3 separate regions of the Homo sapiens genome follow, and regions 1 and 3 are each linked to region 2. A link means that fine-mapping ties the variant in region 2 to the plasma level of a protein whose gene starts in the linked region. Region 2 holds a variant in brackets. A gene starts in each other region. All regions are shown on their forward strands. Distances are between the middles of the regions.

Region 1 (2,500 bases), 28 Mb before region 2:
GCCTGGGTGTAGTCAGGCCCTTTGGAAGCTCCAAGTCAGAGATCAAACACATCCTCCCCACTACCCACGCCTAGGGTGACTAATGCCTGTGGGAAAAACAACTGAACTAAAAAGTCCCACAGGAACCTCAAACCCAGCACATCCAAAATGGAACTTCTCACCATCTCCTCCAAACTCAGTCCTCTTATACAGTAATCCCTGTAAAGCTAGAACAATCTCCATTCCCCATTCTCAGGGCCTTCCTCTCCCGCTCACCTGAGGAGCTACCAAGCCTTGGCCCACAAGCCCTCTGAGAGTCCCTCCTGCCCACCCTGTGTTCTCCATACTGAATAAGGACTTGGCCACACCTTGTCAACTCTTCCCTCTGCTCTACTCCTGACCCCTGGATCCATCCTTCATGCTGTGGCTGAAGGGATCCCCCCATCATGCAAATTCTGCCACATCTCCCGCCTAAAACCCAGGAAGACTCCCCACTACTCTCAGCACAGAAAGTACACTCCTTAGTATGGCATCCCCTGCCCTCATGGCATGGCCCCATCCAGCCCTCCAGCCTCACACCCTGCAAGGACACCTAGACCCCCACCTCCCTCAACCCTTCATGACTGCGCTTCTGATCCCTGTTTCCCCTGGCTAGACCCTGCGTGCCCTCCCGCTGGAAGCGGTCTAATGCCTGCTTGTTTTTAACACTCAGGTTGGGGCCCCTGCCTGCTCCCGGGAGCCTTTGCTGACTCCTGGACCCCGTTGCTCCGGCTGAGCGTGGGCTCTTTCTCTAGGTCTTTCCTCCCAGGACTCTGTGTATTCATCCTATCGTTAAACTGGATTCTCTACAAGAGTAATAATTGCAGAGTCAGCCAGCTCTCATCCCTTTTCAGGTTTCAGAAAAGACCTGTGAACAAAACGCCTTGAGTCTGATTTAGTGTGGCAATGCCCCAAGGGTCCTGTTCTCCCTGGGTGTCCTGCACCTGGTGCAACGTCGGCCTGGCATCTAGTGAGCCATCTAAAGGAACGATGATGAGTGAATGATTTGCCTACCCCTTCCAGTACTAGGCTGGAGGTCGTGGTTAGGGCCCATCCCTACGCAGGACATGCAAAGTGGGAGGCACTCCTCTCTCTACGTCGGCAGGGGGCGCTGCACAGCTGCGGGGCGGGGTAGCTTAGACACGGGGCGTCCGGCTAAGGCCGGGGACCCAGGGTGGTGGGCGGGGTGTCCCGCCCGCCTGTGGACCCCGCGCAGTAACTGCGAACATTTCGCTTTCATTTTGGGCCGAGCTGGAGGCGGCGGGGCCGTCCCGGAACGGCTGCGGCCGGGCACCCCGGGAGTTAATCCGAAAGCGCCGCAAGCCCCGCGGGCCGGCCGCACCGCACGTGTCACCGAGAAGCTGATGTAGAGAGAGACACAGAAGGAGACAGAAAGCAAGAGACCAGAGTCCCGGGAAAGTCCTGCCGCGCCTCGGGACAATTATAAAAATGTGGCCCCCTGGGTCAGCCTCCCAGCCACCGCCCTCACCTGCCGCGGCCACAGGTCTGCATCCAGCGGCTCGCCCTGTGTCCCTGCAGTGCCGGCTCAGCATGTGTCCAGCGCGCAGTGAGTACTCAGCCCGCCAGGTCTTTGGCTCGCTCGGGTGCGGAGGGGCGGCTGCTTGGGAAGAGTGGGTAGAAACTCAAGTCTGCCTAAGGAGAGACTGGAACAGCAGCAGCCGTCTCCTGCAAAGAGGAATAAGAATAGGGGTCTCACCGTGTGCTAAATAGGGCATGTCTCTTTTCATCTCGAAACAGCCTGATGAGCTATCATTATGCCCACTTCGTAGAGGAGAAACTGAGGCCCAGCGTGGGAGATTTCCTGCTTTCCTGCCTAGGGTCCCTCAGCTACAAACAGAAGGCAGATCCTAGCCAGTTCTAAAGTCAGGCTTGGCCGGGTGCAATGGCTCACGCCTGTAATCCCAGCACTTTGGGAGGCCAAGGCGGACAGATCTCCTGAGGTCAGGAGTTCAAGACCAGCCTGACCAACATGGTGAAACCCCGTCTCTACTAACAAATACACAAATTAGCCGAGTGTGGTGGTGGGTGCCTGTAATCCCATCTACTCGGGAGTCTAAGGCAGGGAAAATTGCTTGAACTCGGAGGTGGAGGTTGCAGTGAGCCAAAATCGTGCCACTGCACTCCAGTCTGGGCCACAGAGTGAGACTCCGTCTTAAAAAAACAAAAAAAGTCAGGCTTTCTCACTCCACTGTTTTTAAAACACTGGGTCCCAAGTCTGACTCAGCCACTTCACCACCTGGTCTGGGTTTCCCTGATCAAAAACATGTAGGCTTTCTCTGGGTGAGTGTTGGGTTCAACACCCTTGTCCAAGCTCATCTCTAGACCCTCACAGGGAGCTGGCTTCTAGCCCTAGAATAGAGTGGCGCTTTGTAATAACTCGAGTCATCTCTCAGGTGTTGAAGGAAAAGTGTTGGAAATGGGTTGAGGGAGGTGGGTGCCAAGCATGAATGGATGGGTGAAG
Region 2 (2,852 bases):
TCTGAGTGCTAACACAATGCTCAAAGGAAATGCTCACAGGAACATTTTGGATTTCAGTATTGTGGATTAGGGTTGCTTAGCTGGTATGTGTAAATATTCCAAAAATCCAAAAAATCTGAAATTTGAAACACTTCATGTCCCAGATGTTTTGTATATGCGATACTTAGTCTGTAGTAATGAATATGTGATAATATAAGTATAATAATAATTTAGCATGTTATCCATAAGTACTCATGTCATTAGCTTCTAACAACAGTGATAGAGATCACAATGCCTCAACACTATATAAACTGTAAAATTCTAGAACCAGGGTGAATCTTAAAAGTTATCTAATACAACCCCTTTCTTTCCTAGATGAGAATAGTTGAGAATGTATTCACTAATACATTTCAGCGAAGTACAGGTTCTTTGCCCAGGAGTGCTGTAAATAACCAATGAAAATTCTTGAATGCAGGCAACAATTTAATCTTCATTTCAGAGACTCAGAGAGGCAGGTGGCTTGTTCAGTATTGCAGATTAGTAAGTGGGGAAGCCAAGCCATGATCCTGGGGATTCCTTCTCTGGTTGCCATAGACACGTTTTGGGGGACTTGTTTAGAAGTTACAGTGATTGAACTAATATACCCGAACAAAGTGGATTGGATGTTTTAGAACAAGGAGAAGTCCCTGTATTGTTGACAGAAATCTCTTTTATTTTGTAACTTGTCAGCTTAATTAACTACTGAAATGAGTTCCTTAATAAGGTGATGGGTGCCTCCTAATTCTTGTATGGTTCAAAAACAATAATTAATGCTGATTTGTGTGGTGAGATACATATTAATCATCTTTATTTTTGAATTATACAAATATACAATACTATTGTCCCTCCGTATTTTACATCTGAAGAGAATTTAATTGCTTTTTTGATAATAAAAATAAACAGAGAGCCACAAAGAGATATCACCACACATGTATTAGAAAAGCTAAAATAAAAATTTGTACCAGATGCTGCTAAGGATGTGGAGAAATGATCTCTCACAATGCTGGTAGGCATGTGCAAAATTTTGTAGCCACGATGGAAAACTCTTTGGCGGTATTTTACAAAAGTAAACATGTACTAACCATATGACTCAGCAAATATACCCTTTGGCATTTAATCCAGAGAATCAAAATGTTATGTTCACGAAAAAACCTGTACATGGATGTTCATAGCAACTTTTTTTTTTTTATCATAATGACAAAACACTGGAAACAACCCAAATATCCTTTGATGGGCAGATGTTTCAGTGAAGTCTGGTACAGCCATACAATGGAATAATACCATTCAGCAGTAAAAAAGAATGAAGTATTGTTGGTATATGCAATAACCTGGACATGCTTAATGAAAAAACTGTCTCGAAAGGTTACA[T/C]GTATTATATGATTTCATTTTAAGACAAAGCTCTAGAGATAAAGGACATATTCATGATTGCTAGGGGACAGAAATGGGTGGGTCGGGGGGGGGCAAGTACTGGTCATTCCTACAAAGAGGACGCAGCAAGAGTCTTTGTATGGGTGGAACAGATCTGTACCTCAATTGGAGTGATGATTACATGAATCTATACATGGGATAAAGTTACATAGAACTGTATGCACACACAAATCAATGCAGGTTATAAAATGGTAAAAACTGAGTAACTCCTAGTTAACAATAAGGTAACAATGTCAGTTTGCTGGGTTTTCGAATGTATTACAGCTTTATGAGCATTACCATTTAGGGAACCTGGGTAAAATGTACATGGAAACTCTGTACTATTTTTGCAACTTTCTATGAGTCCATATTTAAAAAAAAATTAATAATAGTAAAATAAAGGAATGCATATAGATATCTTAATGTATTCTTCTCTTACTCAAAGTGCTATCTTACATGCCATCTGAATTGCTTGCATGATACTTTGAAAGATCACTGCTATATGTATCCCTGCCAAAATGTATGGCTTAAACCTGTGGTTTTCAAAGCTGGCCAGTCATCAGAAAGACTTGGAGAACATTTTTCAAAAGAAAAAAATTAAAGCAAGTCCTAGGTCCCATCACAATTTTACAGAATCAAAATATCTGGCCATGGGGCCCAGGAATCTGCATTAAAACAAAGCAAAATAAAAAATAAAACAGAACTTCCCGGGAATTGTGATTGATGCTCAACCAACGTTTGGGAACCACTCATTTATTTCATTAACTTCAGGGACCAGTGCCTTAATCTCCTTTGAACCTTCTCCAAGTCCTGAGAGTGTACTCTTCCTCCCGTAGTTAATGATGGTAGCTTTTGAAGTCTTGAGAGTCTTTATCTTGTGAACATTGTACAGATTCAGAGACCTAGAGCATCTTTCATGTTGCTATTCTTTTCCCTCAGTGCTTTCATTATAGACACCAATCGTTTGCATATGTTGTCCTGGGTCATTTTATTTGGGATCCAAAACCAGAAAATTTCAAACAACAACAAAAAAATGGATTCTTCGAGAATGCCCTAGCCATGGACAAGCTTCTGCATTACAGAGCTCTTGCTATTGTGTTGCTTTGGGTAGCAATGCCTGAAATCTCAGCCAATTTTGGGTCACAGTAGGCCTATGTAAATTATCTAAAAATGGATTCATTATGGACATTATAAAAATAAATCTGACACCTGAGCCTTTGGGCAAATATACCATATAAAGAAATCATACCCTAGAATAACGATTAACCTAAAGAACTTAAAAAAAATCAGTATGATATTTTTATCATCCTTTCTTAAAATTACTGCATTCAGAGAGACCTGATGGCTGAGGACAGCACCTGGGGCAGAGGAGTATAGGTCATTGGGATGTGGCATCCTGAGTCTTCTAGCAGTTTGCTCTTCCAGCA
Region 3 (2,852 bases), not on the chromosome of region 2:
GTATCACCTACATTTGAAACCACAGAGCACTGTCCAGGAGAGGTGATGGTGGTGGGTCTCCTCCTTTGGCTCTCTGGCCCATCAGCTGATACTAGGGAGCGCTATCCCTCAGCCCACATTTCTCAGCATGGTAAGTCTGAGAGTCTTGATGATTAAAACACATTTTTGTGTGTGCAATTTCATAGGTTTTCTAAACTCTTGAAACCCTTGCATGAAGGACAAAGGGACCCCACGTTACACACTCCTACTTCCTGGAGTATGCTAAGGGCTTCCCAACACTGGTGCCAACATCAGCATGCCAATGACGCTTGGGTGGGCATCTCTTTTTTAAGTTTTGTTTGTTACCTTTAATTAGAAAAGGGAGTTATTATTAAAGAATAAAAAGATATAGTCACAGATGGCATGGGTGGCACATGCAAAGATCCCTAGTTTGAGGGCCAGGCAGACTTCTAGAACTGTGTGACTCTGGGTGAGTCACTTGGCCCCTTTAAGCCCCACACTCCTGATCTATAAAATGGGCATGCTACTGTGGTAAGGAGTTAGTGACATAATTCACGTGAAGTGTCATGGTGCCTAGATGAAGTCAGGACCCACTATTTGCTCCCCTCCTTCCACAGCATTTACTACAATGGCAACAATACAGTCTCTTCTTTACTGTTTGTCTTCTCTGCCACACTGAGTGAACTCTCTTATGCCATGGATCATGTCTATCTTGTTTTGCACTTTACCCCCAGAGTCCAGCACAGAGGGATTCCATGACTTATTAGTAGCATGAAGGAATGTACGGAAATCATACAATTTCAGATTCCAGTAAACTAAACTCTAAGAGGTTACCCACATTCCATCTAGTATCTTGCAATTCCTTGTTTGAAAAAGTGGGTCATCACCTGGGGTTTAGTAATCCCTTTGTTAAAATGACATTGTTGTTGCACACAATTTTACCTGGGCAAGTAAAAAAACCTTTTTTTCCCCCTTCTCACAGATTTAAAAACTCTTTAGGAAGCAATAATAGCTTTTCATTTTTTAACTGGGGCCAAAGTTAGTTAATCCACAAGAATGGGGATCCCAGCTGTCATTTTGGTTGATATCACAACTGACGACCAAGACCATCACAAATATGGGAGCAAGTCTGATTTGTAACATTATTATAATTATGAATCCAATTACTTTAAGGAATGCACGAAAGGCTTTTTAAAAATTTCAATAGTAAGGCAGGCACCACTCACTTTAGCTCTATACAATCCTTTAACTGATGGGCATTAACATTTAGGAATATACTTTTATACATCAATACACACCACTTCAAAATAAGATAAAACAAACATTTCCACAAACTATGCATACACACAGATCTTGCTATACAGTTATTATTAGGTGGCTTTTAAAATGGACACTGTACATCGGTCCCTAGAGTACTAAGTTTTCACTAATGTTCCAGCAGATGACTCACCAGGGATGCTTCCAGGAATCCACCAACTCCCTCCTGCCAGCTGCTGGGGTAGCACACTAACGGTTTCTACACCTGGACAGCTGCAGGCCCACAGGGAGGGGAGGGAGGTAGGGGCTTGGGAAGTGCTTACCTTGCTCTGGGCAGGACGGAGAGTCCAATGGCCCTGAAACAGATGTTGTTTCTTCTGCTGCTGTTGCTGGTACTGGAACTTATATACTCTACTCCTTTCTGATGGAAACTTAAACTAGAAACTGACTTGTTGCAACATTGAAAACAACTCTCAAAACCTTCTGGGGGAATTTCAAGAAGTTCCTTTTTTGTTTGTCTCTCTCTGTGTGTGTATCAATAACGAGGAGGGAACATAGACATCAAAATCCCAGGTAATGAACTAAGAGGAAATGACTTTTGGGTGGGGAATAAGGAAGGAGATGGAGATGCTAATTTCTCTGGGTTTACATCATGGCCAAGGTGCTTGGAGACAGCACTAGGCAGATTCCCTGGGTTCCACAGATCGAGGAAGAAGGAAGGCCAAGGGGCGGTCAGACGGGAGGCTGAGTTCATGTCGGGATGGAACAACTGTATGCCCAAGGGCTTAAAAACAAAATCCTGGTTCTTCCCAAGTCAGAGAGGATGAGATGAAGGGCAAAGGGTTTAGTACATCTGGGGCGCCTTCCTCCACATTAGTCCTTTAATTTCAGAAACATACTATTTACCACCCATCTTGGCTCCATGCACCTCTCCCCACATTCCCCGAGTGGGAACACACGCGTGCACACACACACCCATGCACATTTCATACAGACACAGACCTGGGGAGATGATAAAACTGCGTGTACCACTAATAAGACTCAAATATGTGCACATCCTGTGCTCATAGGTACTCGCTCATAGGGGCGGATGGGAGCAGAAAGTGAAATACCCTCAGGGAGGCATACAGACAACCACACTCAAGGCACCCCCCCTTGGGCACCCAGACTACATCCTCATTTCATTTGCACACAAATCTATGGCCCTAGGGGCTCCGTGCAGATGCACAGGAATAGCGGAATAAAGATATCTCTCGTGGTGGAATTTCAAGTTGCTAAGAGGTATGCAAAGGTGTACACCGGTGTGGACCCCCCCATCCCCCGCCCAGTCTGCACGTGAACAGGAACATGTACCTGCACGTATACCAGGTACACGCAGACAGATGCGGGCCATCCCCAGAGCCGCCGACAGAGGTCGCTGCGAGACGGTACCCGCGCCCCACAGTCCACCCGCTCCTCGGAGTCCCCCCGCGCCCCGGAGTCCACCCGCGCCCCGGAGTCCACCCGCGCAGGTCCACTTCTCCATCCCTGCTCTCGACCTCCGCCCCTGCGGTGGGGGAAGTTCCTGGGGCGGTGGCTGGGACCAGGCCGGGTTT

Alleles and levels. Positions count from the first base shown, and alleles are read on the strand shown. Strength reflects both the effect of a copy and how common the allele is.
For the plasma level of the protein whose gene starts at base 1,246 in region 1, C is the low allele of the variant in region 2 and T is the other (weak association).
In carriers of allele T in region 2, the plasma level of the protein whose gene starts at base 1,636 in region 3 tends to be higher than with C alone (weak association).

The links. PIP is the posterior inclusion probability: the model's chance that the variant is causal. Protein levels are from antibody-based Olink assays in UK Biobank. Linkage for the fine-mapping came from a reference panel and not from the study's own genotypes, which makes the PIPs less certain.
Region 1: IL12A starts here. The variant in region 2 is fine-mapped to the plasma level of the IL12A protein (UK Biobank, PIP above 0.99).
Region 3: IL12B starts here. The variant in region 2 is fine-mapped to the plasma level of the IL12B protein (UK Biobank, PIP above 0.99).

The regions. Positions count from the first base shown.
Region 1 is chr3:159,987,590-159,990,089 of GRCh38, forward strand. It overlaps IL12A (interleukin 12A), which reads left to right and starts at 1,246. Exons shown (of 7, transcript NM_001397992.1): 1 at 1,246-1,585. The coding sequence starts at 1,570. It overlaps IL12A-AS1 (IL12A antisense RNA 1), which reads right to left. Exons shown (of 10, transcript NR_108088.1): 9 at 1,508-1,704. RefSeq lists enhancers at 1-104, 956-1,456, 1,457-1,957, 1,457-1,506 and silencers at 1,017-1,216, 1,287-1,336.
Region 2 is chr3:188,414,306-188,417,157 of GRCh38, forward strand. All of the region lies in intron 4 of LPP (LIM domain containing preferred translocation partner in lipoma), which reads left to right. Among named protein-coding and RNA genes, the nearest start is that of LPP-AS1, 150 kb to the right of the region's middle. The variant T/C (reference allele first, on the strand shown) is at 1,387.
Region 3 is chr5:159,328,852-159,331,703 of GRCh38, forward strand. It overlaps IL12B (interleukin 12B), which reads right to left and starts at 1,636. Exons shown (of 8, transcript NM_002187.3): 1 at 1,581-1,636. It overlaps IL12B-AS1 (IL12B antisense RNA 1), which reads left to right and starts at 2,667. Exons shown (of 5, transcript NR_037889.1): 1 at 2,667-2,852.